Linked DNA regions of Homo sapiens: region 2 is linked to region 1. The links come from fine-mapping of genetic effects on gene expression. Tissue or cell type: whole blood. Region 1 holds a variant in brackets; the other region holds the start of a gene. All regions are shown on one strand. Distances are between the middles of the regions.

Region 1 (2,756 bases):
ACGGCTTTCTGTGCCCTCATAGACTAGGGACTCAGACCCCTGGGATTTTGCATTAAAGGGAAGTGTCCCACGGCTGGGACATGTGGGCTGTAGAGGACCTCCTCGGGTTGGAAGCCCTGTGTGATCTTGAGCTGACCACACCCTCTCTCTGGACTTCCTTTTCCTCTCTGGACTGTTGTGACCACATGGGATGACAGGTGGGAAAGAGCTTGAAAATAGTCTTCTCTAGATGCAGGCAAGGGGCTGAGTAGTGAACGGGAGAAGGAGCCACGGGGCTCGTGTATCAGGCAGCCTGAGCCAAGGCAGCAGGGCAGGGACCACGCAGCGATAGGAGTTCATGTCCAGCAGGGAGTGTATACAAACCTCAGAGGGAGGATAAGGGATGTAAACAAGGGATGGGCCCGGAGGGACAAGTAATGCGGGAAGTGTGAGGTCCCCAGGGAGACCATGCTGGTGGAGGGCCCAGAGTTGTGAGGTGCAGCCCTGAGCAGTCTGGGGGTGGATGGAAGTGGGGCAGGGTGCACACACGTTAGGAATGGACCAGTCATCATTATCACCTGGTGAGGGAGTGGGGAGGTGCGGGGAATCAGGCGGGAGAGCTGGGGGATGGGGCTGGAACTGGAAAGGCTCTCAGAGCTGAGCCAGTCCAGTCCCCCTACCCTCAGAACCCTGTGCCCCGTGACCCTCATCACCAGCACCCTCGGCTGGGCCCTGGGGAGTCCTGGGAGGAAGGCGGTTTCTACTGTCTAGGGGCAGCCAGGCCAGATCTGTGCAAAAATAACTCACCCTGAGCATCCTTCCAGAGATACACGCTGGGAGTTCTGCAGGGTCCCCTGAGAGCTGAGGAGGAGGAAGAGGGGAAGTGGGAGTTCCAGCAGGACTTTGAAGGATGGGGGCGGTTTCTCCAAATGGGAGGAGGAGGGAGGTCAAAGGGCAGGTTTGGGCCAGTGTGATGGCTCAGGCCTGTAATCGGCACTTTGGGAGGCCAAGGTGGGAGAATTCCTTGAAGCCAGGAGTTCTCAAGACCAGCCTGAGCAACATAGCAAGACACCATCTCTACAAAAAGTAAAAAAAAAAAAAGTTACCTTTTTAGCCAAGTGTGGTGACACAGGCCTGTAGCCCTAGCTACCTGGGAGGCTGAGATGGGAAGATCGCTTGAGTCCAGGAGTTCAAGACTGCAGTGAGCTATGATGGCACCACTGCACTCCTGCCTGAGTGAGTGAGACCCTGTCTCTAATAAAGAAAATAAATAACTATTTTG[G/A]TGGCTCACACCTGTAATCTCAGCACTTTGGGAGGCTGAGGCAAGCAGATCACTTGAGGTCAGGAGATCGAGAGCAGCCTGGCCAACAAGGTGAAACCCTGTTTCTACTAAAAACACAAACATTTGCTGAGTGTGGTGGCGCATGCCTGTAATCCCAACTCCTCAGAGGGCTGAGGCATGACAATCACTTGAGCCCAGGAGGCGGAGCCCAGGTTGCAGTGAGCTGAGATCCTACCACGCACTCCAGCCTGTAAAACAGAGGAAGACCCTATCTCAAAAAATAATAATAAATAAATTCAATAATTTAAAAAACAAAAACAAGGGCAGGTTTGGAGAGCTGTGGGGTCAGCTTGGCTCTGCAGAGAGTTCAGTGTGCGGGGGTGTCCTGGGAGGAGGATCTGCTTGAGGGGCTCAAGGCAGGCTGTGAGCTCTCTGAGTCTTGACACTCACCTTTCTCTGAATGTTCTCTGTTCTCTTGGCTTCTGGATCTTTCCATGCACTGTTCCCTTGTCCTGAGATGCCTTTCCTTTCCAAACTTGCTGGACCAAAGCTTTGACCTTCAAGGTTCATTGTTTGCATTCCCAGCTCTGTGAATTCCTTCTCTCCCGCCAACCTTCCAACCCCTGGAGATTGACAGGTCCCAGCCCAGCACCTACCTGTGTCATTGCCTCTCTGCTCCCTACTGAGATGGTCCATGGTCCTGTGTGTCTCCTCCACAGATCATGTTCCCAAGGACAAGGACCCTCACTCAGGTCCTTAAACCTGACCAGGGCTCTGCCGGTAGTTGATAGTTTATATGAGTTTGTTGACTTGAATGAAATCAATACAAAAATCCGTCCCTTTGCCGGGTGCAGTGGCACATGCCTGTAATTCCAGCACTTTGGGAGGCTGAGGCAGGAGGATCACTTGAGACCGAGAGTTTGAGACCAACCTGGGCAACACAGTGAAACCCTGTCTCTATTAAAAAAAATTCTGTCCCTTACCCCACTGCCAAAAGTATAGGTGAAAAAACTAATATTTGGGCTGGATGCAGTGGCTCATGCCTATAATCCCCGCACTTTGGGAGGTCAAGGCGGGCAGATCACTTGAGGTCAGGAGTTCGAGACCAGCATAGTCAACATGGTGAAACCCTATCTCCACTAAAAATACAAAAATTAGCCAGGCATGGTGGCACACATCTGTAATCCCAGCTACTCGAGAAGCTGAGGCACGAGAATTGCTTGAACCTGAGCGGTGGAGGTTGCAGTGAACCAAGATAGTGCCACTGCCCTCCAGCCTGGGTGACAGGGCAAGACCATGCCTCAAAAAGAAAAGAAAACTAATATTTGAGAAAGGTCAAACAAGTGATACATTAACAGTCTTATTTTATTCGAATCCTTTCCCTAAACACAAGCAAGCAAAGAAACAAACCCTGAGCCTCCTCCAGTCCTCTCCATCCACTTGGTTCCTCAAATCCCCAAACCCAGTTGCTTCCTTGACTCTTAATTTTCCCTCA
Region 2 (2,500 bases), 71 kb after region 1:
CATTTTCTCTCCTCACCCTCCCATATCAATTCCTCGAAGGCAGGGCCGATCTGGAGACTAGGAAGCCACTTCTCTTTCGACAGCCCCCACCACAGCCCAGCCCGTGCCAGGCACCCAGCAGCTCCTGAAGCCCACTGGCATTGAACATGGCATTCAATCCCTGCCAAGCCTGCCCTTCCCATCTGGTTTCCCAGGGCTCTTCCCAACACCTCCTCCTCCACCTGCCAGTTAAAATCTTCCCAGACTCAGCTCAAGGAGATGCTCCTAAGGTGGAATGAAATCTCTTCTTCCCCACCTGGAGACAATCTACTTCCTCTCCCTACACCTGGCAACTGGCGCACAACCTTGTATCTTAAATTAGATTCAGCCTGAGACTGTCTCCCACCAATCCCTGCTCCCTGTCCTGCTGAGCACCTTGAGGAAAGGGCTTTGGGGCTGTTTATCTTTGTCCTGGAAACCATCCTTCAACTCACTCTGGGGCCTGCCTAGCATGTCAACCGAGTTTGGAGAATAGGGCAGAATAGGGCAGGACAGGACAGGACAAGACAGGGCAGGATAGGATAGGAGCGAGCCAGCTCAGTAGCTCACATTTGTAATCCCAGCGCCTTGGGGGGCTGCGGTAGGAGAATCGCTTTGGGAGCAGGAGTTGCAGGCCGCAGTGAGCTATGATCAGCTTGGGCGACTGAGCGAGACCCTGTCTCTAAAACAAACACACAAGTCCGGGCGCGGTGGCTCATGCCTGTAATCTTAGCACTTTGGGAGGCCGAGGTGGGCGGATCACGAGGTCAAGAAATCGAGACCATCCTGGCCAACATGGTGAAACCCCGTCTCTACTAAAAATACAAAAATTAGCTGGGCGTGGTGGTGCGCGCCTGTAGTCCCAGCTACTCGGGAGGCTGAGGCAGGAGAATCGCTTGAACCCGGGAGGCAGAGGTTGCAGTGAGCCGAGATCGTGCCACTGCACTCCAGCCTGGCGACAGAGTGAGACTCCGTCTCAGAACAAACAAACAAAAGGATAGAAAGGCGAGCACAAATATTCCCAATTCATAACACTCCCTCGCACTGTCAATGCCCCAGACACGCGCTATCATCTCTAGCAAACTCCCCCAGGCGCCTGCAGGATGGGTTAAGGAAGGCGACGAGCACCAGCTGCCCTGCTGAGGCTGTCCCGACGTCACATGATTCTCCAATCACATGATCCCTAGAAATGGGGTGTGGGGCGAGAGGAAGCAGGGAGGAGAGTGATTTGAGTAGAAAAGAAACACAGCATTCCAGGCTGGCCCCACCTCTATATTGATAAGTAGCCAATGGGAGCGGGTAGCCCTGATCCCTGGCCAATGGAAACTGAGGTAGGCGGGTCATCGCGCTGGGGTCTGTAGTCTGAGCGCTACCCGGTTGCTGCTGCCCAAGGACCGCGGAGTCGGACGCAGGTAGGAGAGCGGCCGCGCAGACCTCTCGCCTGCTCCTGCCCAGGGGCCCGCCAGGGCCATGTGAGCTTGAGGTTCCCCTGGAGTCTCAGCCGGAGACAACAGAAGAACCGCTTACTGAAACTCCTTGGGGGTTCTGATACACTAGGGGGAGTTTTATGGGAAAGAGGAAGCAGTAATTGCAGTGACGCCCCGTTAGAAGGGGCTTTCTACCTCCCCAGCATTCCCCCAAAGCAGGGACCACACCATTCTTGACCCAGCTCCACCCCTGTCGGTAGGTGCTGGCTTCTTCCCCTCTCCTGGTGGTGGTGGGTGGTTCCCGCGGCGGCCTGGAGCCGGAGGGGCGCGCGACCCTGGGCTGGGAGCTCCGAGGGCCTGGGAACGAGACCTGAGACCTTGGCTTCTCGAAGGTAGTAGGGACTTGGGAGTGGTGACTGAACCTGGTCTGGCTCCTCCTTACTTCCTCTTGTTGCGGGTGGGACGAGCTAGCTTCCGCCTCTCCCAGCCACTTTTTCCTGCTCATTTGCAGCTAGGTTGGCTCCCCTTTTGGGAATTTCCTCTCCCCTTGGCACTCGGAGTTGGGGGGTGCCACCTAGTGGAAGATAACGGAGCTAGGGTCTTGAAGAGGCTGCTGTCCCCTCTGGCTGTTTTGGCGGTGTAGGGTGGCATGAGAGACTGCGACTCGCCTCCTCATCCCTGTTTCTGTATGCGAGTGCTTGTATTCAGTAGAAGCATACACTATACTCCCTCAATTTAGGGTAAACAGGAGGGGCCACATGCACAGGTAATTCACCAGGGAGCCGAACACTCCTGTGCAGACAGACTCCCCTTCCCAGCAAGCCATGGCAGCGGACAGCCTGCTGAGAACACCCAGGAAGCAGGCGGTGCCAGCTGCAGGTGCTTTGCCTGGGAGCTGTGGGGCTGAGGAGAGGGTCCACTGTCCAGGACCAGTGAACTTCATCCTTATCTGTCCAGGAGGTGGCCTCTTGGGGATGCTGAGTTAGGGGAGGGGCACTTGAGGAAAGCCAGGTGGAGCAGAGAGGATGTGAGTGACTGGGTGGGTGAGATTTCCT

What was found. PIP is the estimated chance that this variant, and not a neighbour inherited with it, causes the effect.
Region 2: GRN starts here. The variant in region 1 is fine-mapped to the expression of GRN in whole blood (TOPMed, PIP 0.96).

The regions. Positions count from the first base shown.
Region 1 is chr17:44,272,361-44,275,116 of GRCh38, forward strand. LOC105371790 (a long non-coding RNA gene) reads right to left here. Exons shown (of 4, transcript XR_934778.4): 3 at 1,918-2,035; 4 at 1,675-1,818. Among named protein-coding and RNA genes, the nearest start is that of SLC4A1, 5.6 kb to the left of the region's middle. The variant G/A (reference allele first, on the strand shown) is at 1,262.
Region 2 is chr17:44,343,905-44,346,404 of GRCh38, forward strand. It overlaps GRN (granulin precursor), which reads left to right and starts at 1,398. Exons shown (of 13, transcript NM_002087.4): 1 at 1,398-1,430. RefSeq lists enhancers at 1-369, 1,521-1,670.